Regions from separate parts of the Homo sapiens genome. Here region 2 is linked to region 1. Evidence: fine-mapped expression QTL. A gene starts in region 1. The other region holds a variant in brackets. All regions are shown on one strand. Distances are between the middles of the regions.

Region 1 (12,110 bases):
AAATATGTTCAGAAACAAGGGGAGATGGTGTTAATTACACAAACATCACATTAGCAAAGCCCCGACGTCCTAACTCGGCGATGCTTTTCGGAGAAATGGAATTGGGATGACAGCGGCCTAGACGCCAAAAAGCCATCACGGCCAGACCTCTCGACAGATCTCATTTTGTCGCGCCGTCTGGCCGCCAGCCCGCGGGGAAACGGGTCTGCCTGAGGATAGGCATCCTCCATACCTGGCAAGCAGCAAGCGGCACGTTAGCTGTTCCTGGGCCGCGTCCCCGCTCTCCGTCGCGAGCAGCGGCCCCAGAGCCTCCCTTTTAGGCCACTCAGACGGCAACGCCGGGACGCTGGACCGCCAGGGCTCCAGGCACGCGGGCGCTTCCCCCTCCGCCTCTCCGCTAGCTGGACTCTGCGCCGCCGTGGGAAAGCGCGCGCGCGCTGGGGAATGAGCGTGGCCCCTGCAGGTCGGGGCGTAGCGACCCCGCTCACGCCAGGTCCTTGTCCAAGATGTTGCGCTTCTCGCGAGGCCCGATTTCTCCGTAGATCAACTAGGGGGATGGGGTAGCATCAGGCGAAAATTTCTTTCTCTCCGAATCCGGAGTCCTCTTGAGACTTTCCCAAGCCATTGCCACTATCTGATACGGAATGGGAAAGTGCAGGGTCTCCGTCCCGTACTTGGTGCACAACTCAGCACATAGCAGGTGGATGACAAAGGTTAGTGAAATGAAAAAAAAAAAAAAAAAATGAGGGCGTTGAAGAGATGAAAAGAGAACATAGAAATTCTGCGCACCAAATTCCACGGCTTTCCACTCTCTTAAAAGAAAATGATAAATAAAAAGAAAAACAAAGAAATAAATAAAAGAGTGGAAAAGGAACCGCTGAGTGCTGCCTTCGAATTTAAAATTTTCTCCAGGATGCTCTACCCAACCCCCTGCCATCCTGCGCCCCCTGTGGTTGGGGCGATAGCTTTGCTTGGTCACGCTGGAAGTGCCTGGAGGTCCACTGATTTTCCAGGCACCCTTTCCCGAGAAGCGCTGCCTTGCCTGGTGGACCCGAATGGAATTGTGGAGACATGGAAAAACTCAAACAGCATTGCATACTGATAACGATTTTAAGATTACTTTATTGGCCCCGGCTTCCTGCAGGTCACCTCGCCTCTGTACAGGTGAGCGCTGTGCCTCTGCAGTCACAAAAGGAAGTGGAAAGGGCAACAGGCCCAGTGGGAGGGCAGGCCTGGACGTAGGGGGCCGAGTTCCCCGAGTTGCTCCGCAGGGGTGGGGGTTTGGCAGTCTGCGGAGCTGAGCGCGTGAGGAGAGTTGTGGGGATGGGCAAAGACGGGTGTAGGAGGGGGGTGAGAGGCAAAGAGGCTGACAGCGATGGCTCAGCAAAGCCCGCTGGAAATGGGACCCAGTGCATGGGCAGAGCCTTCCTTCCTCCGGGAAAATGGCAACTTTCGGGTGGTGAGGTCAGCGAGTAAAAGCAGAAGGCAAAGGTTGTCAAATTCCTTGGAGTTGCTGCGCACATAGGGAAAAGAGAGCTGGTGATTAACACCTGAATACTCTGTGGGTGGAAGGAAACTGAGCGCCAACGTGTGGGCCGAGGGGACTCCCAGTGTATTTTCCAAGTACAGCTCAGCCAACCAAGTGAATTGAATGCGGAAACTTTTTTAAAAGTACCCCCGCACCCTCCCAAAAAAGAGCAACACCAAACTACGATAGAATACAGTTGTACAGCCCGCAGGAGACTTTATGGTACCTCGAGGACCTTGTTTTCCCATACCTCGCAGCTCCTAGCAACCTTTCTTTAGAGACCATCGACTAAGTTATTACAATCTACACCCACCAGCCTAGGGTCTTCAGCTGCTTCTGTGACCTGTAAGAAAGAGTACTTCCGCTGGAGACGGTGCTACGCGTTGGCGGAGTGGGGCTGGGGTTCCTACTGAATGCTCCAGGAACTGGAAGGTGCTGTCTCTACCACCCCGTTGAAATGATGGTGACCTTTCTGACCTTTTTTTTTTTTTTTTTTTACAAGGGATGGTTCTACAATAGACCTAAGCCTATGATTTTTTGATCAAGGCTCTCGATCAGCGGCCTAAATACACAATCTTGGCTAGAAGCCAGAGTAAACAGACAAGGGGTGTTCTCAAGGGAAAAGATAGAAATGACTGCTTTAAGAAACGCAAACTGTTGCGGGTTTGTTTTTGGTTTTGTTTGTCTGTTGAAAATCAAGGCGTCTCCGAGAGTCCCCAGGATAAGTTGTTCTCACTTCCTAAAAGCCAGACCCCGAGCTGGGCTTGGCTACACTTGAGAAACCTGAAAGGCGAACGCTAGGCCACAGCCGGAGGGCAACCTTTGCTGACCCTATTGTCAGGCTTCAGCGGGCCCAGGCGAGCCCAAATACCGCCCACCCCACCCCACTCTCCGACTCTCCGTCCCCCAAGCGACACAGACACACATCGGCCCCAAACCACCCAGCACGCAGAGGACACCCTTCTTCTTCTTCTCCTTCTTTTCTTTTCTTTTTTTTTTTTTTTTTTGAGACGGAGTCTCTCGCTCTTGTCGCCCTGGCTGGAGTGCAGTGGCGCAATCTCGGCTCACTGCAACCTCCGCCTCCCGGGTTCAAGGGATTCTCCTGCCTCAGCCTCCTGAGTAGCTGGGATTACAGGCGCACGCCACCAAGCCAGGCTAATTTTTGTACTTTTAGTAGAGACGGGGTTTCGCCATGTAGGCCAGTCTGGTCTCGAGCTCCTGACCTTAGGTAATCCACCCGCCTCGGCCTCCCAAAGTGCTGGTATTACAGGCTTGAGCCACCGCGCCCGGCTGAGGGCACCTCTTCTAATAAGTTGGGTCCTAATCATGCCAGGGACCTTGAAAAAGGTCCCCTATGAGCAGTTACTGAAGAGGAATCAATGCAGATACCTCCGCGCGAGTCGTGGGACAGCTCCTTTCCTGCTCTTTCCACCAGTAGCTCTAAGGCACAATTGCTGAGTGTTCTTTGCAGATATAAGGCACTTGGGACACCTGATGTCGGCCAAGCCTAGAAATAGGAAGAAGGCAGAGCAGGGGTGCCCTATGTACCCAAAGCCCATTGGGCCAGTCACGCTAGAGTCTTGGTCCCGGAGTTTTGCTATAACCCGCCCTCTAAGGATAGGCATCACATCTGCTCCGCCGCAAATCCGCTTGGTCTCTTTCGAAGGTTGGGGCGACCTCCAAGCCCCGCAGGGCGAAGCGGCAAGAGGCTACGCTGGGTGAAGTTTCCAACCGAAGCCAACAAACGGCGCTATTGTCGCGCCCTGGGTTCTGGGAGCCCCAGGGCTGGCTCCAGTCGGAGGGAGCGGGAGCTCTCTAGGAAGGGCGGGGGAATGGGGAGGAGGCCTTGGTCGGGTTCCCAGCGCCAGATCCGGAGCTCTGTGAACCGCCCAAGGGCACTTGGAGGCTGGAGAGGGCGAGAGAGCTGCTGAGCGCGCTCTCTTCTCCTGAAGAGGTTGAAGGATCGGTCCTGGTTCCCACTGCGTTCCTCTGCTTTCCTCGCTGGGTGCAGGGTGCGCGTCGGAGACACTGGAGTTGGGGCTCCGCCAGCTGCCCTGCCTTCCCGCAGCCCCAGCCGGAACCGAGGCCTCCTGCGCTGTGGTACCTGTCGCGACACCTCTCCCGACCCTTAGCGAAGGTTGCGCCGCTGGGCTGGTGGCTAAGCCTGCGCTGCAGGTGGGCTAAGAACTGATTTATTTCCAGCCTTCCCCCATCTCCCCACGCCCGCAATGGTAACCTTGCTTGTCTATTGAAATGATAGCTTGTATTTAGAAAGTGTCCTGGCAAGAGTTTCCAAGGAAATCTGGCGTGGCTCTTACTTGAGAATGTGCAGATCACCCCAGAACCACCAGATACGGAGATTTTATGTATCTACCCCCCGAGAGGGAGCTGGCCTCAGCGAGAAGCCGGGAGAATTGGGAGAGTGTGCCTGGTCCTGGCAAAAGACTGCTGTAAATCTGGCAGGAGGATGTAGGGCAAAAATGAGCTCACCTAAGCCTCGGGCTAAGTGTGATCAAATGTCAGACAGCTGGGAGCAGTGACTAGTTTCCCCTGGTAATCTGCTGCGGGGAGGGTGTCGGCCCAGCACCGTATCCCCTGCCTTGGGAAATATGCAGCCCAGGCGCTGTCACTGCAACGTTTACTTGGGTCCTAAAACTTGGAAAGAAACCTGACATCTGTGAAGCTACTGGACGCCAGGCCGCGCGTCGGTTGGGTAGTTTCCTAAAACGCGCTTCACTTAGCAACAGCCTCCAGGGCCCAGAAAAGCCCAGAGAGGGCATGCGGGAAAGACGGCAGGAGGGCAGAGATATTGCACATTGGCTTCTGTAGGAGAGGATGGATTTGCCTAAGAAAGTTTGACCTTGTCGGCCACTTCGCCAAGAAAACAGGTGCAGGTAGGGATTGCCTAATCATTATGTTTTCTGAGACGTACTTATCAGCTCACGTTCGCTACGCGCGCGCGCGCGCGCGCGCACACACACACACACACACACACACACACACACACTGTATCTACACACAGAAGCCTTCCAGAGAGTTTACTTACATTTAAAACCCTAAATCCGTATACCCATCCAGTTGACTGCAGCCCTTGGCTGCAGAATACTCAGATCAAGTGGAACACAAACTTAAGGGGCAAGTTTCCAGACCCCAAACTTCCGAGAGATGATGCCGACTGGGAGCCGGGATTCTTTTGCCAGAGGTCCGCCTGGCCGAGAGGGGGCTGGCCTGCCCTGAGCCTCCACTCCCCCCCTGACCCCACTAACAAGCCGAAGAGGCGTACTTTTTAATTCGTGGAGAGAAAGGGGGAAGAGCCCAGCATGCAGAAGTCCCGGGATCGCCTGGTCTTGCATTAACGCTAAGACGCTAGAAACCTGGGATTCCCCCATGCGCCCCCCACCCACTTAAGATTATGCTTTCCGTTTAGTTCCCCACCTTTCCACGGGGCTAGGGATGATGGGGGGGCGAGACCCCACACCGTATGGACACCTTATTTTAGTTTCTGCCAAATCTGCCGGGATGGCTTCTCATTCCCACTCGCTACCTCGGGCTGCTCCGAGAGTTTCAAACGCTGTGCCACTCGCTTCAGCTGGCAGTGGCGATTATCGGGGTTTCCTCTCCCCGCAGCCAGAGTTCCCGCGCCGCTAGTCTTTGGCAGATAACCCAACAAGCAAGTGAATGTCCCGCTCCGAATCTCAGGAAGTCTCTAAAACAATAAAAGAGACGGACGGAATCCGTTAGCAGAGCCTGCTCCCGGGGGAGGCGGCGAGGCTGCGCGCCCAGAGTAGCGCTCAGCGGTCCCGGCAGGTGCGGGGGCAGTGGAGGGGGCCCGGCGGTTCGCCCGGAGGACGGCCTCGGCTCCGCTCCGGCCAACGTTCCCCCCTCCAAGAAACTTTTCTTTCACTCTGAGAGGCTCCGTGTTGCCATGAAAACGGATTTTCCAAGGGGCCCGACCCTCCCCCTCAGGGGCATCGGACTGGAAAAACCGAAATGGCCACAGAGCAGAGACAAAAAGGGGCCGCTAAGCGGGGGCCAGGATCGAGAGAGCGGAGGCCAGTTCACCCCCTACGTCCCACACATACTTTCCACACCACCTTGTGCGAGCGCCTCCGACAGGCTCAGGAGACGGGCGACTGACTGCTTGCCCGCCCTCCTGCAAACCCCCAAGAGCCTCACAGCCGAATGCACCCCGCAGTCCTGAAGCCTGTCTCCCATGCCCGGGCCCCTGACCCACGCTGCGTCCTGGACGCACTGGCCCTCCTAGAGAAAGATCTGGACAACCAGCGGCCAATTCCAGGGAGAGCTTCTTGGAGACGCAGCCAGGAGCACTTCCAATGAGCCTGGAGTCCCTAAGCCGGCCTGGGTAGCTGGTGGTGCCCTGCGTTCCTAGCGCTGGCAGCAGAAGCGGCCAGAAAACCTCCGTGCAGACAACGGGAAGCTTTGCGGGCTGGCCGGGGGATGGGGCGCCGGTCTGCCTTGACAGGGTTGCAAAGTTGTTTTCTAAATTCCGAAGGCGCCCCTCTGCCCCCTCCCCCCAATCTGCTTGCGTGCCCCCTCCCCCCTCCCCCCGTCACCTCCTCAGGTTTCGTTCTTTCAAACTTTTTGAAACCCTAATTGGTGGCCTCTGAGTGGGCCTCGTGGACTCCCGCCTCCTAAGTAACTCTTACCACGTCACTAGGCCAAAGAGGGGCGTGGGGTGAACGAAAGGGCTCCCCGAACTTTTTTTTTTCCAGCCAGGCCGAACGGGGGCTCGGTAATGATTGGCCAGGGCGCATCACTGCGAACCTGTCAATCACGGGTCCTCCGGGTTGCGAGGGGCGGACCAAGCCCCAACCCCGGGGAATCCGAGCAGGTATATAAGGGGCCCAGCTAGAGCCCAGGCAGACTGTGAATGCGACCTGTTCGAGAGAACTCATCAGGTGCGAGAAGCCCGCGGGTTCCTGCTGATTTGGCGCGGAGCATTTTGATAAGCCTACCCTTCCCGCCGGACTCGCTGGCCCACAGGCCCCCAAGCTCCGCTCCGACGGAGTCCCAGGGCCTTTTCACCGTGGCCGCTCCAGCCCCGGGAGCGCCTTCTCCTCCCGCCACGCTGGCGCACCTTCTTCCCGCCCCGGCAATGTACAGCCTTCTGGAGACTGAACTCAAGAACCCCGTAGGGACACCCACACAAGCGGCGGGCACCGGCGGCCCCGCAGCCCCGGGAGGCGCAGGCAAGAGTAGTGCGAACGCAGCCGGCGGCGCGAACTCGGGCGGCGGCAGCAGCGGTGGTGCGAGCGGAGGTGGCGGGGGTACAGACCAGGACCGTGTGAAACGGCCCATGAACGCCTTCATGGTATGGTCCCGCGGGCAGCGGCGCAAAATGGCCCTGGAGAACCCCAAGATGCACAATTCTGAGATCAGCAAGCGCTTGGGCGCCGACTGGAAACTGCTGACCGACGCCGAGAAGCGACCATTCATCGACGAGGCCAAGCGACTTCGCGCCGTGCACATGAAGGAGTATCCGGACTACAAGTACCGACCGCGCCGCAAGACCAAGACGCTGCTCAAGAAAGATAAGTACTCCCTGCCCAGCGGCCTCCTGCCTCCCGGTGCCGCGGCCGCCGCCGCCGCTGCCGCGGCCGCAGCCGCTGCCGCCAGCAGTCCGGTGGGCGTGGGCCAGCGCCTGGACACGTACACGCACGTGAACGGCTGGGCCAACGGCGCGTACTCGCTGGTGCAGGAGCAGCTGGGCTACGCGCAGCCCCCGAGCATGAGCAGCCCGCCGCCGCCGCCCGCGCTGCCGCCGATGCACCGCTACGACATGGCCGGCCTGCAGTACAGCCCAATGATGCCGCCCGGCGCTCAGAGCTACATGAACGTCGCTGCCGCGGCCGCCGCCGCCTCGGGCTACGGGGGCATGGCGCCCTCAGCCACAGCAGCCGCGGCCGCCGCCTACGGGCAGCAGCCCGCCACCGCCGCGGCCGCAGCTGCGGCCGCAGCCGCCATGAGCCTGGGCCCCATGGGCTCGGTAGTGAAGTCTGAGCCCAGCTCGCCGCCGCCCGCCATCGCATCGCACTCTCAGCGCGCGTGCCTCGGCGACCTGCGCGACATGATCAGCATGTACCTGCCACCCGGCGGGGACGCGGCCGACGCCGCCTCTCCGCTGCCCGGCGGTCGCCTGCACGGCGTGCACCAGCACTACCAGGGCGCCGGGACTGCAGTCAACGGAACGGTGCCGCTGACCCACATCTGAGCACCGGCCTGCGCTCGTCCACCCTTGTTCCCCACCCCCACCCCCACTCCCGCCCCGCACCCCCAAGTTGGGACGCCTTGTTTAGCTTTGCTTGCCTGGGACTGTTGCCTTGTACCGATGATGGGGAGGGCTGAAAGTTTTGCTGTAGCTGTCGGGTTTTGTACAAAAGCAAAAATAAGTCAGGAGCAGCGAAAATGGGACTTCTAGAGAGCTCTCTTGCCCCACGCCGCTGCTCCTTTCACCTTTGTAGGCTGGGAATCGCTGTGTTATTTGCAAAGAAAAAACAGCCCCCACTCCTCCTCCTGAGTTCCAGGGTTATTCTGTTACATTTGAAAATGTTGTCTTGTTAGTTTGCAGTTAGCCAAGGAGTGAATGGGAGAAACATAGTATCGGGTGAGGCCAGCTGGAGAACTGCAACGCCTACGCCCCCAGTCGTGTCGCGTCTGTTTTCCTCGTGGTTTTTTGGGGCGCTGACCGCTCCAAGCAGCGCGGCAGCTAAAGCCAATGTTAATTTATAGCCAGGTGTGCGTGTGTCTCCCGCCTCGCCGCCCCTGGCCGCGGGACAGCTTCTGTCCAATCATGTTGAGTTGGTGATTTCTGCCGTGATCTGTTTGATATTTCTTCGCGCTAATGTGTTCAGATTTCGTTTGGGTAGTGGGGAGGGGCTACTTTGTTTCAGGGTTTTCAAGCTTTTACTCTTAATTCCTAAATGAGATCAATAAATTTTATAACCAACATGATGGAGTCCTGATAATTTTGCGGCCCTGAAACTTTTTTGCAGGTTGGGGAGGAACCAACACTCGGTTTTACAACTGAGATCCCATCCTAGGGGCGGGGTGGGACCTGGGGGGAGGCAAGCATAATCTGAAATGGTTTCCTTTTAACTACTGGTGATCCACCATACACCAGCTTCCAATATTCTCAACTGAAACTCGGAACAGAGTTCCGAGTCTTCCAGGAGCGTCTCCCGAGAGCGGGCACACAGTAGTAGCTAATGCGCAGAGCCCGCGGCCGCGCACTTGTTGATCGCAGTGAGCGTCTGCTGAAAGTGTCTGCTGCCGCAGCCACGCGAGGCGGGGCTGGAAAGGCGCGGCCGCTGAAACCGACCAAAAACGGGGCACTTTTACCTTTGTGCACTGGGGCGGGAAGACATTTGAGCCTAGCTGAAATATTTACAAAACGAAAACCCTTCGGAAATCTCGATGATCCTATTAAAAATAAATGGTTACAGGGATCCCCAGCAGGAAACAAATACGTTTCAACCCTGGTAGCTGAACCGCCGGAGTCAACATTCAGCGCTGGAAGATTTGGTATTAAAAAGTACTCCTTAGATTTTCAAAGATCTCCGAAACTCCTCCCAGGCGTTTTGTTTTTAACATGTCAACTCAGTCCACCTATTTGTTTTCCAGAGAAGGCTCCTTTTCATCCAGAGTCTCGAGCCCGCTTTCTACTCCATCCCCCTCCCCACTCCATCCCCCTCCCCACTTTCCTCCAGTCCCTGACCCTTGGCCATTCCACTGTGCCCCCCGAAGGGCCTTTAGTTTCGCGCCCAGCCACACGGCCCCAGTGTATCTGTTTGGGGCCTAGGAAGAAAACAAATAGAACCAGTGTTTTTTTACCCCCTCCTCAGCTGTTTGAGGTGATTTCCTTAATCCCTTTAATCCTGTTACCTCGCTATCCCAGAATAACTAAACTCAGCCTTTCCAATAAGCTTGGCCTGGTGCACTGTTTTTATCCTCATCCACTACTGACCACAGGTTTCTTTGCTTGAGGTCCGCTGGGACCCTAGGCGACAGAGTCTCCCGTAAATTGGTCCGAATTCCACATTTCCAGCCGGCTTCCTTTGTGTGGGCCAGTCATTCACCTGCGGGCCGGGGAGGGCCTGGTGGGGGGGTGGGGAGGGGGCTTTCTGAGGCTTCGGGGGTCGTGCCCGCTTTTTACACATCACTGCGGATCCTGGAGACTAAACCCACTCCGCCTCTTCAAGAAAGGTCGGGTCTCCCTGGGAAGGCAGCACCAGCCCCCTAAGACATTTCCACTGCCAACCCTCACCCCCCGCATTCCATCCCCCACTGTGCAGCATGGGGTGGGAGGGGGCCGGCGTTGATTTACAGACCCATACGCTTTGCCCTCCACCCAGTCCTCCTCCTGGTCCTGCCGCGCGTCCAGGCTCGGGTTCGGGTTCAGTCTTAGCCTTGGTACCACTCCCCCTTCTCCCAATCCCAGGGCCACAGACCTCGCCCCCCTCCCGGCTGGTTGGTGCTTCAATCCTTGCTGCTGTGATTGGAGCAAACCTGCAAGCTGCCTGGTCAGTGAGCCTCATCTCCCCTGGCCCCTCAACCCGGGTGCTCCAAAAACCCAGGGGCGAGAGGAAACTCTTTTGTCCCATCTATCCCCCCACCATATTTTTACCGTGTTTGGCCTTCAATAAAATACCTGTCCGTAGGTTACTCTGGGTTTCCAATTGCTAGCAATTGTGGACTCAAATTTGGTCTGAAATGACTCCAGGAAAGGGAGGGTAAAAACAAGCAATTCGCCCCCACTGTGGGAGGCGGTGCCAACAGGGGAATAAACTCTGACACTGCTTCTTTCGAAGAGTCCATTGTGCTGCTGCCTTCTTAGAAGTGCCAGGGTCACCCTTTCAGTGTGTCTCACATACCGCTCACTCTCTCTCTAAACATCCATGGCTTTGTGCTTCACTTTGTCTGATTTCCAAATTGCCCTTAAGGGAAAAGATTTCATCAATCAGCACATTAGGAGGATTTAAATACAGATGAAAAATGATTTTTTTTTCTTTCCTTCAGCAATAGGGAAGAGAACGGAACTGAACTAGAATGAAACTTTCATCTTCTAGGCCAGAGTTTTCAAACTGGGGCCCCTCCCCCACTCCTCCCCACTCACGTCTATCAGGGCAACCGAACCTTAATCCATTTTATAGATTGGGGTTCTGATAAGGTTTAATTTGTAATAAGGGTTCTGCTGCTTAAACAGCAACAATAATGAAATCTGGTCAAACTCCAATTCCTCCTCCCTCCTCTTCCTTGTTTTACATAGGAGGAAACTGGCCCCAAAAGGGGAAATGACGGTGCTCAAGGTTGCGTAGCTGGTTCTACCGCGGCGCAGTGGAACCACACTCCCAGGCCTGGGAGGGTACTCTCTCCTCTGCCGGCCACAAAACCAAGAGATAAACCAGTGAAATCACAGCCCCAGCTGCCCCTCAAAGCCATAATCCAGCGGGGCCTCTAGAGAAAGGCAATTCCTGACACAGAGACTCCTACTAGCCACCTCTTCGTGAATGATGTGATGTGGGAAGCATCAAGTCCTTACCGAGGGAAAATGGCTAGTCCATTTTTTAGCTTCTATGATAGGTGCAGAGCTACTTTTTGGTGGGAATTACCCTAGGTAGAGTTTTGCTTTCCTATCTTCTGACTATACAACTTCCTTCATTAATCCCCCTTCTAGAAATCTAGGAGTGGGTGAGGGTTGGGGCTGAAGAAGCGCATCCAAAATGCAGCCAAAGATTTATAACAAAGATACTCATCACAGCCCTTCTTATGCAAAAAAGTTCCAAACAGACCAAATGTCCAACAAATGGAGAAAGGTTAGGTAAAATGTTTTAAAAAGTCTGCTTTGCAGACATGAAAATCGTTTACAGAGAAATTTTTAATGACACAAGGAAAAGCTTAAAGCACAAAGCATAAACAGCAAGATACACAGAACTATATTCAGTGTATATGACCTTGACTATTTAAAATAAGTATATTCGACTGGAGAAACATGCAAAAATGCAGGGTAGTGTTATGAATACTGGTTAGTCATCCTTCTCATACTTTCCAATTTTCTCTAATAGGATTGCATTCCTGTTATCACTAGAAAAGGCAGGTTTAAAATATATTCTCTCCCTATCACAAATACAAAATTGTGTCTCCTTGTGAAAGAGAAAAGTTCAAGCCTTTCCTTCAGCTGTTTTGGGATGGGGAGGGGGCAGGGAGCCCCAGGAGCAGTAATCCTCTAGCTTTTCTCCAGGTTGGGGCCTGCAGTTAACACAAGCAGGACAAGCACACCAGAGCAACCCCCTGCCAATTCCCCTCCTCAGTAAGCAGGAGCAGGATCAGATTAGTGAGCGGCTCCGTCATTCTTCAGACCCACTCACTGGAGAAAAAGACCTCCTTGGGAGCCAAGCTGAACAGCCTGGGCTGCGGGGAGCTGGGGCCGCTGAGGAACCAGAAGGCGCTTAAATGCAGGGGCCCAATCAACCCTCACTGCCCTCTTGAGAAGGGGGCAGAGAGCAAGCCCAGGGGTGGGTTCCCAGGTCAGGCAGAGGAGAGGTTAGGTGAGCACCAACCAGCT
Region 2 (12,110 bases), 73 kb after region 1:
CTTGCCCAAGGTCACACAGTCAGAGAGGATTTCACAGAGCCAAGGCTTGTCTGAAGCCAATGTGTGTTCTTTTTTTTTTTTGACGGAGTCTCACCCTGTCACCCAGGCTGGAGTGCAATTGCACGATCTCTGCTCACTGCAACCTCCGCCTCCCGAATTCAAGCGATTCTCCTGCCTCAGCCTCCCGAGTAGCTGGGACTACAGGCGCGCGTCACCACACCCAGCTAATTTTTATATTTTTAGTAGAGACGGGGTTTCACCATGTTGGCCAGGATGGTCTCGATCTCTTGACCCCGTGATCTGCCTGCCTCGGCCTCCCAGAGTGCTGGGATTACAGGCGTGAGCCACTGCACTGGCCCCAGTGCCTGTTTTCTAAACCATTAGATGATATTGCCTTCTATTGTTATTAATTGTGTTTTAATGTTTACAGTTCTTCAAAGGGTGGCTTTTTGTTTTCCAAAATTTGCCTTTCAAAGTAACATAATTGACAATCACTTGCTTTGTTATTTTAAGTCCCTTTGGGATCATTTTTTCCTTGAAAAGACTAAAATAGCTTCAAACTGCAGTAACACAAAGGGAAACAAGGAGAATTGGGCTCCTAACTTAGGTAGGTCCACCTGTTAACAGGTGTTTGTTGGAGGAACGGAAAATGACTGATGCCAAACTAATAAATTTTAGAACATCCACATCAAAGGGAGCAGCACATGCCAAGACCCTGTGGTTGGAAGGGGTATAGCAAGTTTCTGGGACTGAAAATTCAATGTGGCTGGAGCATAAAGAACAAGGAGGAACATGGTATGAGATGGGGCTGGAGAGATACACATGTGGGGCCTACCCATCATGGGCCTACAAAGTCCTGCTGATGTTTTGAGTCCTTACCCTAAGATCACTAGGAAGCCATTGAAGAGTTTAGTAAATAAAAGGTGCCTGTAATCCCAGTGCTTTGGCAGGCCAAGGTGGGAGGATCATTTGAGGCCAGGAGTTTAAGAGCAGCCTGGACAAGATAGCAAGACTCTGTCTCTACAAAAGAATAAAAAATTAAAAAGTCAAAGGGTAACATGGCATTCTTAAAACATCACTCTAGCTTCAGTGTAGAAAACATATTAGGAAACATAGTAAATCTAGGGAAACAACTAGTAAACTATGTAGTTGTCCAAGCATGAGATAATGGTGGCTTGGACTAGGGTGATGATAGTGGTTTTCTACTATTAATAAATGGTTGCCCAGGAGCCACGCACATAATGTCTCAGATCTTCAGTTTTCTCATCTGCAAATTGTCCCCAACACCATCAACCTTTCTCACATGAAGGTCAATCAAAAAAGAACATATACAGGCAAGCCATTAATTTAACATAATGATAAGCCAGGTCCAGTAATTTTCAATCCTGATTAAGTAATATCTGCTACTTTTCATTATCATGTAATGACTAGGTAGAGCTATAGGTTTTTTTCAGGTTTAGTGTTAACTATACAATAAACACCTGACTAAAACACACTTCTCCTTGTAAGGACTTAAACCATTATAGATAAGACTAGAGTTTCCCTTGACTTCCTTCCCAAATCCTGGTCCCCTTTGTCTCTCCTTAGAGGCAATGTTTAAAGTCCTTGAAATTTGAACTTCAGAAACACAGGTGATGATGCAGACCAACCAATTGTAGCTGAGTTCATCTAGAAGCATAATATTGGGGTCACCTGGAAATACCTAAAAGAAAAACTCTCTCTTTTGGGGCAGCTGCTTTGTAATAGACATCTGTGTTCATGGATCCTCATATCCCACTGTGGTCAAAGGTCGGTTGGATCTCTGCAGGGTTGAATATTCTCCACTTGTACTTTGAAACAGTAAGTGATTTGTCTGCATATGTACACTATATGTCACTAAAAAGCATGTTGTTTTTGGTTTAAAGTGCAAGTGTTCTGTGTCTTGAATTTGATCATAAAGTGAGCACACCTATGAAACCAGCACCCAGGGCAAATTCAAGACAGAGAACATTACTAGCAGCCCAGAAACCCTACTTGGGTCCCCTTTCTATCACTATTCCTCACTCAGAGATAACCATTGACTTCTAATGGCATAGATTAGTGTTGTCTATTTTTGAACTTTATATAAATGGAATAATACAGGATGCACCCTTTTGTGTGTCTGTGTGTGTGTGTGGGGGGGTTGTTTGTTTTTGTTTTTTTTTTTTTTGCTCAATACTAGGCTTGAGAGATTCATCCATGTCCTTTGCACGTAGCAGTAATTCATTATCAGTGCTGTTGCATAGTGTTCCACTGTGCAAATATAACACACAATGTATCCATCCTATTGTTGATAGACATTTAGGTTGTTCCAATTGGGGTTACTTGATTTTACTATATTTTTTATTACACCTGAGCAGGTTTTTCAGCTTTAAATTTACACTGTCATGAGAATGAAATGCCCACAAAACAAAGCTGATTATTTTACTCTCTCAAACTTAAAGTCCTTTGTTGGCTCTCCCTTCCTTTCCTCTGAATTAAATCTGAATTCCTTAGCATGACACTCAAGATCTTGTCCAACATATCCAAAACTAAATGTTGAGCCTCATATCCTGCCACCAAATTCCAGCTACTCATTTCTCATTACTCCCCAGTCATACCAGCCTTTTTCATGACTCTGTGCCTTTTTTGCACATGCCTTTCCGATGATTTGAGATGCTTTCTTCTTTATCTGGAAAACTTCCACTGCTTCTTTAAGATCCCACTCCAATGTCACCTCCTTTGTGAAGCCTTCCTGAATGCTTGTAGGCAGAATCAAGTGACACCATCCTCTGGGTTCCCCTAAAATTGGTTCAGCTTATTAATTTTATTTTCACTTAAGAAAGACATTGCATTTAGTGCATATTCTAAACACTTGACAAATATTAACTCATTGATCCTTAAAATAACCCCTTTGGGACAGGTATGATAAAAAGAGTACTTTTGCCAAGTGAGGAGACTGAGGCACATAGAGTTTAAAAATGACTTCCCTACCTTATGATAGGTGGATGTAGATGTATTAATTTGTAGATGCAGAGCCTAGGTCAAAACCCAGGCAGCCCAACCCCAGAGCTCAGGCTCTTCCTTACTTTGCCACACTGCTGCTATCTCTGGGTTTCACTGCCCTCTGCTTGGATGAATCAACTGGCTGACATACCAGTCTCTCCCACTAGACTGTATCGCCTGTTACCATTTCATTCCTATTTGTGTCCTGAAAGCCTGAGAGAATGCTCAGTAAATAAGAAACATGGTTGAATTCACTAAGGGGAGTGGTTCAGAAGAGCCTGGGAATTTCTGGGTGTGAAATGCAAACAGGTTGCCTAAACAATTAGCTCAAGAACAACGTTCATCCAGGTAGAAGGGTTGTAAGGCTTAAATACGATCATGGGTGTAAAGTGATTAGCCTGGCACGTGGCAAGCGTGTGATAAATGTTATTTCGCACTACACTAATAATAACAGCAGTTCACATTTAACAAGCAATTACCATGTTCCAAGCAATGCTGTAAGTGGTTTATTTAACTAATTTAATCCTCATGATAACACTATAAAGTAAGTATTATTGTCAGAATCTAAGCAGTAAAACAGAAACCACTTCAAGTGTAAACAACAGTGAGAATTTAATGCCTGAAATTGGTGACACAGTTCAGGGAAGACCTAAGAAACCAAAACGGATTGAAGAGGCAACCTGGACATTAGTAGTAGCAGGAAGCTGCTAACACCCATAGGCTGGAGGGACAAAGGGAGGGGACAGTGGTACAGAGCCAGGGGCTGGGATCACCCAGTGAAAGCTAGAATCACAGTGGCAATCTCTGGGACAGAGAAGGAGGGGCCACCAGCAGGGGCTGGAGCCACAGAAGAGATTCAGCCTTGAAGGAGAAACTGCTTGAAGCAGAGATACTTTCACGGCTTCCTGGGACATTGGCCTCTCAGTGCTGAAACCAGAAGAGTCCTGGACAAACTGGGACAAGTTGGTCACTCTGGGACACAGAGAAGCAGGGGAAAGAAATTATCTGGCTTCTTTTTTCTTTTCCCCCTTCTTCCTCCAGTGAGTGCCTCCTATTGGCTAGACCCAGCGGGAAGTCAGCCTGGGAAAGAGCCTGAAGGGGTTAGACCCCCTACCATACAAAGCAGAGCAGGCAAAAAGCTAGAAACGGACTTGAGGGTCAACAGACCCACGACTGGAACAGCCACATGATAGGCACCGAAACTTTCATGCACAAAGGCAACAAACCGCTTGCAGTCTGGGTCTTTGAGTAGCCCCTATCTATAGGGTTGGGTTCGGGCAGCCAGGAACTAGTTTTGGCTGTGCAGAGCTATTTTCAGTCCTGAGGGGCTGTGATTAAACATAACCATGTGACCCGTGACTCCAGCCTCTATCACAACCCATTCCTCTTACACAAAAGGTGAGGCACAGTTCTGCAGTAGATCCCACCTCATGTTGGACAGTCATCAGCACCAGGGCTGCTGGACACAGGGACGGCATTGAGCTAGAGAGTTTGTGCCAATGTAAATCAGCAATCACTAAGCATGCTGTTTAGTTCAGCTGACATTTTATTTTCACAGCAAGATTGTTGATGAAGCAAGTAGTGAATTGATTTACATTCTGGCGCAAGCTCCTTATTTCGTCATGGACCACTAACGAACAGTTCTCAGACTGGCACTGGTGTTTGGATCACACTTTTGTTGGCTTTGTCTCTGGAGAAATAATGTGGTTTAAAAGTAGAGGGGAAAAAAGCATCAGATCAGGGCTCAATCTCTGCTTCTTTCACTAATTGTGTGAGAAAGTCACTTAACCCCTCTCTTAGGTCAGTTTCCTCCTCTGTCAATACCAAACCAAGATGCCCTGCCATCCACACCGGGTCACCTCTGAAGGTTGTTTCCTTTACTGTGGGGCTGAATCCATGACTGGTTGGAAAGGGGTGGATATCTCATTCTTAATCTGCCACAAAACTTGGAGCGGGGAGGCACAGAACTACCGGGACATGCCCATGCTCAATCATGGGGCATTGAAAAACAGAAATAGCCCCTAGAATGTATGGCACAAAATAATCCACTTATACTGGCCTTGTAGCAAATTATGAGTGTGTGTGTGTGTTTGTGTGTGTGTACTGGGAAACACGGTGATAGAGTGGGGTGCAGACAATGGAAAGAAGAGTCGGGAGAATGAGGGGTGGGGTGGTGTGACTGACTGAGCTGCCCAAGGGAAGTGGTAATCAAATGAAATGAGTATCATGGAGAAGTCCAAAGACACTGAAGGAGAACTGCCCATGTGGATGGGCATGTTATGTGACAATGCCGACAGATGGATACCATGTGTAAGCTTCACTGGATAATGCCAAGAGTTCAGTGGATGTGGTGGGAATTACTGTGCCTTCTGGGGATCACATCCTAGCAGTGACACAGGGTTGGGAGCCAAATTGGCATGTCCTCCAAAAATGTGGGTAGGGCTACCCTGGCCTGGCTACATTTTACAGCCCTTACCTTGGCCAGGGACCAGAGTGTGCGTGAGGGTCAAAGCCACCAATGTGCACCTGTGTGTTCACTCACAACAGCTGGGCCACCTCTTTAAGGGCAGCCTTGTATTCCTCTGGTCAGAGGCCAATCCCTCCCCCAACTCCCTTCCCAAACACCCAGCTGCTGTGCTGGGAAGGGCCATTAGTGAGGACAGAAGGAGACAAAGGGGAACCTCTTGTGTCTCCAGATCCTGCAGCTCCCTAGCTGTTCCTATGGGCACACAGATGTCTGCAGACTCTGTGAACGTTGTCTGATAGCCAAAGAGGGCAGTGGGCCAGGTCAGGGAACTGGGACTCCAGCCAGCACTGTCTGCCCTGGACTATCG[C/T]CCAGCCTGAGTCTTTCCTGCCAGAATCCATGCCAGGGGAATGTCCAGTGGTAGATCCAAGTATCCCAAGTTCTTTAGACCCATGATGTCTTTACAGAAAAAATTATGTGCCTGTTGTGAAAGGGCCTTGGTATCTCACACTGAGGCCAGATGTTAGAAACTGTTATCTGGAGGCGGCGCCTAGAGAAGAACATGCTTGGGGAGGCCACAGCCCATATGGCAGTGAGGAACATGCTTGGAGCCTTGGGAAGTTCTGGGGAACCAGGTGGTCCTGTTGCTCTGGTAGATCCACACCATTTAGTGAGATCACATGAAAACCCTTAAAGAACTCAGAGTTACTGGGAGTCAGACTTCAAGCAGAACTTTCAAGCCCTTTCTCCACCTTCCTTCATCTCTTCTGGTTTTATGTTGCTCTCCTCACTTTATCTCTCTTTTCTCCTGTCTCCTATTTGATGCCTAGTGCCCAGGAACTCTGGGGGCTCATCCTCCACCTACCCTAGTTCCCTAAACTTGTCTCCTTCCTGCTGATACTGTAGTTGTTTTAGAATGCTCTGCTGATACTGTACTTGTTTTAGAATGCTATCCCAGAAAATACCCCATTGGCTTGGATCTGGCACTCAGTTCTGGGGCGGTGAGGGGAGGGCAAGAGAGAGGGCGTCTTTTCAGGCAGCATGCTGAGACTGACACTGCCGCAGCTTCCTGTGCTTCCTGCCTGGGCAGAGGTGCCCAGGGGTAACAGCGAGGGTAGCAGCAACAGCTCCATTCACTCAACAGGGTCATAGACTAGGCATTCGCTCAGCTGTGTTATATGCTGGGATACAGCCAGCAGGAACCAGTTCATAGCAATGGAATGAAATTGCCTGGGAGGGACTGTGGTATGGAACTACTACTGTTCTCTGGGAGAGTAAGGGCAAAGGGAACATGTTCAACTCTAGATGGGCACTCCAATGGGCAGAGCATGGACATCAGGGTAGGCTGACAGCAGGCAGCAGGGCCCCAGGCTCTGGGCTAGAGCTTAATGTCAAGTCCTAGGGAACCTCTCCCCAGGCCTCAAATGCCAGGAGCACTAGCCCAGTTTGGTGCGGACTCCAGAGTCCAGGGTGGTGTGGTAGAGGGAGCATTGACTTTGCTTAGAGCATGACAGGCTTGAGTTCAAATCACAGCAATGCCATTTAAGACCTCTGTAAAATTGGGCAAGTTATTTAGTAATTTTGAGTCTCAGTTTCCTAATCTGGCAAATGTAGACACTTCAAAATCATCTCACAAGGTTAGGAATTAAATAAGGCAGTGTCTGTGAAAGTACACTGACTGACATTATTACTAAACTTGGGTCTAATGTAGAGATGGAAGTGCTCTTGGAAGGGAGCAGAAGCCCAGCTATTACCACAAGCTGGGTAGGAATGGGTTTTGCAGAATAGAGCATGCAAGCCAAGCCCAGAACCCGTGCCTGGGGCTACTTAGAAGTCAGGCTTGGCATTGGAGGGGAAAGATTTTAAGCAAAAAAGCTACCTGATCAGTTTTATGTCAGGGGGAGGCAGAGGACAAACATTTTGGAGCTAGTATGACTCAGTTCTGAATCCCTAGCTCTAGCAATAGGAGCTGTATGAGCTTAGACAAGTTATTTAACTTTTTGGCATCTGTAAAATGAGGATAATGATGCCTACTATTATGGGTTAAATTTTATTTCCCCAAATTTTCTGTTGAGGTCTTAACCCCCAGTACCTGTGAATGTGATGTGATTTGGAAATAGGATCTTTGTAAATGATCAAGTTAAAATAAAGTCGTTAGAGTGGACCTTCATCTAATATGACTGGTGTGATGATTAGTTTTGGGCGTCAACTTGATTGGATTAAAGGATACACAGATAGCTGGTAAAGCATTATTCCTGAGTATGTGTTTTTTCATTCATGTTTGTGACAGTGTTTCAAAAACAGGTTAGTATTTGAATCAGTGGACTGATTAAGGAAGGTCTGGCCTCGCCAAATGTGGGCAGGCACCATCTAACCAGCTAAGGGTCTGGATAGAACAAAAGGTAGAAGAAAGGAAAATGTGATCTCTCTTTCTTCTGGAGTTGGGACACCCATTTTCTCCTTCCTTTGGACATCAGAACTCGAGGTTCTCTGGGCTTCAGACTCCAGGACTTGCACCAGCCACCCCTCAGGTTGTCAGCCTTTAGAATTGGACTGAGCCAAGCTACCAGCTTTCATGGTTCTTCAGCTTACAGATGGCATATCATGGGGCTTCTCAGCCTCCATAATCACATGAGCCAATTTCCCTAATAAATCTTCTCTCAAATATCTACACATCTATATATGTCATATTGGTTCTGTTTCTCTGTAGAACTCTGATTAATACAACTGGTGTCCTTATGAAAAGGGAAAATTGAAGGACAGACATACACACACAGAGCACACCATTTGGAGACGAAGATAGAGATGAGTGTGATGCATCTATAAGCCAGGAATGATAAAGATTGCAGCAAACCACAAGAAGCTAGAAGAGAAAAGTGGAACAGAGTCTCCCTCATAGCCCTCTGTAGGAATCAATCTTGCCAACACCTTGATCTTGCACTTCTAGCCACCAGAACCGTGACATAATAAATTTCTTTTATAGTTTTAAAAAATGTTTTAATTTTCAATTTTATGGGTACATAGTAGATGTATATATTTATGGGGTACATGAGACATTTTGATACAAGCATGCAATGTACAATAATTGTATCAGGGTAAATGGGGTATGCATTACCTATCTCAAGAATTTATCATTTCTTTATGTTTCAAACATTTCAATTATACCCTTGTAGTTATTTAAAAATTTACAATAAAACATTGTTGACTGTCATCACCCTGTTACACTATCAAATACTAGTTATTCATTCTACCTAACTATATTCTGGTACCCATTAACCATTCCCACTTCATCTCTACTCCCCATTACCCTCCCCAGCCCCTGGTAAACATCCTTCTACTGTCTATCTCCACGGGCTCAAGTGTTTTGATTTTTAGATCCCACAAATAAGTAAGAACATGAGATATCTGTCTTAATATGTCTGGCTGATTTCACTTAACATAGTGATCTCCTGTTCCATCCACGTTGTTGCAAGTGACAGGATTTCATAAAGCTGAATAGTACTCCATTGTGTTTATGTATCACATTTTCTTTATCCATTCATCTGTTGATGGACACTTAGGTCGCTTCCATATCTTACCCATTGTGAATAGTGCTGCAATAAACATGGGAGTGTAATTACGTCTTCAGTATACTGATTTCCTTCCTTTTGAGTATACACTCAGCACTGGGATTGCTGGATGGTATGGTAGCTCTATTTTTAGTTTTTTTCAGGAACCTCCATACTGTTCTCCATAGTGGCTGTACTAATTTACATTCCCACCAACAGTGTACAAGGGTTCCCATTTCTCCACATCCTCTCCAACATTTGTTATGGCCTATCTTTTGGATGTAAGCTATTTTAACCGGGGTGAGAAGATATGTCATTGTAGTTTTGATTTGCATTTCCCTAATGATCAGTGATGTTGAACACTTTTTCATATGTCTGTTTACCATTTACATGTCTTCTTTCAAAAAATGTCTATTGAGAGCTTTTGCCCATTTTAAAATCAGATTATTGGATTTTTTTCCTATTGAGTTGTTTGAGCTCTTTATATATCCTGGTTATTAATTCCTTGTCAGTGGTATAGTTTGCAAATATTTTCTCCCATTTTGTGAGTTGAGACGATTCATTCATGTTGTTTAAGTCATCTAGTTTGTGATACTTTCTTGTGGCAGCCCTAGCAAACTAATATACCTACCTTAATGGAGGATTAGAGATAATCTAGGCATTCAATAAATGATGACTATTATTGTTGTTCTTTCTCTCAGTTGCTTAATCAGGTATGACTGGGAAGCTCTCGAAAAGCAGGACACTGTGCAGTGTGAGAAGCACAGGTTCCAGGGCCCAACAAAGGCCTGGGTACACCACTTACTAGTTTTGTTACCTTGAGCATGTCACTAAAACTCCTTGATCTTCAGGTTCCTCAGCTCTAATATGGAGATAAGAGTAGTAGCCACCTTAGAGCATTGTGAGAAATGCTTGAGAAAAAGGAATTTAAATGATTACTCAGCATAGTACCTGGAATATTAAAAACACTCAATAAGAGATAGCTATTGTTACTACTATTGTTGTGGTGATTATTATATTATTATTATTATTATTATTATTATATGTAGTATAGAATCTATAGGCTTATGTCAAGTTCTGCCTTATCCTTGAAGCTTTTCTTGAATGCCCTAATCAAATGATTTTTCTTTCCTCTTAATTCCTGCAGCTCAAGCCTTGACACTGAATTACATTTTGTCCTATGAGTTGTTTCAAATGTTTATCTTCTCTTTCCAAGGACACTGAATGCTCTATGAAAGCATGGGTTGTATCTTACTATGTTTCTGTAACTCCCACAGCACCTAAACACAATTCTTTGCTTTTAATAGATGCTCAGTTATTGCTTATGATTGATTGACTGATACATTGAAGCCAAGTAATTGCAGCTTCAACAGGGATTCAGGGGCGGTGAGAAGGGCTCATTTGTAAGCATGTCCAACTTTTGAGTTACCTTAAGGGTTATATTTTTAAATACAGAGGTATTTGCTTTTGTTATCACCTTTCAAAAACAATAATATCCCATTGAATATTGTTAAATTCACTTAAGTATCATCCCACATAGACATGCAGCAGTTAAAAACCAAAAAACCAAACCAAAAAACCCTCCTATCTCAAAAGAGTTGGATTAGATACTATTTAAATGTTAAATTCTAACTTAAATGTTAAATTCTAATTTTGTCAGTTAAAACATGTCCTGAGGTATCCATGGTGTGGGTGGAAGAAGTGGCCTGAAAAAGTGGGTTTAGGACCAGATTGTAAAAGGCAATGTGGTTGGTTCATGCTAAATGTGGTTGGGATTTTGCTTTATAGGCCTGGGGACTCACAATGAAAGCTCTGAGGATGCTGCTTCCTCTGAGGCCTCTCCAATGGGATTACTTTCCCAGCCTTTTTAGCAGAGGGCCTAGAGGGAGAAATTTTTTTTAACTGTTAATTGCTGTTTCCAAAACATGTCTCTACCCTGCCACTCTCATCAATCAATCTCTTGCTCACTTCCCAAGATTCATTGGAGACTGTGATCCCTGACTCTATGGCTTCCTCTCCACCTCACACTTTGCCCTTATGATAGGGGACTTCAATGCCCATGGTGACAATCCACCCAGTACCTCGGCTTCTCATTCTTCTGACTTCATCTACAGTGGCCTTTCCTCCCCTCCACCTGAGCTATGCACTCATGGCCACAACCTGAATCTTATCATCTTGGAGAATTACTCTATCTCGTGAATTCTGAACTCCACAAACTATTCTCTGAACATGATTTTCCTTCCAATTCTCTCATTCCATTATTGTCAGCAGTTTTTAGCTTCATTAAAACCATCAGTCCCTTTTGCTTCTCCAATTACTTACTGTCTGTCCTATCTTTTCTCCCTTAGTATTTTAACCTTTGACCACCCTCTTACTGAAAACTTCAACTTTCATGTCCTCTCATTCATTGAATCTGCTTGGCAAAACTCTTTGCCTTCTTCAACTATATTCCTGCAGAAAACCATACAACCACTTGCAGGTTGGAACTGCTGTAAATTCACATTCTTCAATTTCAAGCATGTCCTAAATAGTGTCAAACAATCCTTCTATGCATCCCTAAGATCGTTCCCAGTTCACACAAAAGATAATTCAACCTGTCATCACTTTCTTTGAGATTACTACCTCATTACCTCTACTGTCATTCTCATATTAACTCACTTTTTACCTTACAAAGACATTTGGAGCAATCAGGTAGAATTTCCTCAACTGCCTATCCTCTTTCTTCCTGAGAAATAAATACACCATACATTGTATTTCTGTTCAACTACACCATTCCTTCTTGTCTCATGAAAGAAGTGTATCCTATTGCTCCTGAAGGCTTATTTCTTCCCTTGTACCCAGCATCTCTTCTCTGTTCCATGATATTATTATTTTTTCATTCTTGTATCTTCAACCTTTCCATGCACAGCATATAAATATTTTAAGTCTCTCCCATTTAAAAAAATCTCATATTCCTGTTTAGAAAACCAACCTCTCACCTTCTCAAATAATGTTTTTGTTGTTGTTGTTGTTGATTTTAGTAAGTTTCAAAAACCTCGGGCTTTAAAAATCTCTGTACTCATCACTTACTAGTTGTATTACCTTGAGCAGGGACA

Alleles and levels. Positions count from the first base shown, and alleles are read on the strand shown. Sizes are in standard deviations (SD) of each study's normalised expression.
In carriers of allele C in region 2, the expression in tibial nerve of the gene that starts at base 6,411 in region 1 tends to be lower than with T alone (small effect, 0.36 SD a copy in GTEx).

The links.
Region 2: its variant is fine-mapped to the expression of SOX3 in tibial nerve (GTEx, PIP above 0.99).

What each region holds. Positions count from the first base shown.
Region 1 is chrX:140,499,370-140,511,479 of GRCh38, reverse strand. SOX3 (SRY-box transcription factor 3) reads left to right here and starts at 6,411. Exons shown (of 1, transcript NM_005634.3): 1 at 6,411-8,495. The coding sequence starts at 6,420. The coding sequence ends at 7,760. RefSeq lists promoters at 6,173-6,459, 5,970-6,678.
Region 2 is chrX:140,426,235-140,438,344 of GRCh38, reverse strand. No RefSeq gene overlaps it. Among named protein-coding and RNA genes, the nearest start is that of SOX3, 73 kb to the left of the region's middle. RefSeq lists an enhancer at 263-837. The variant C/T (reference allele first, on the strand shown) is at 5,838.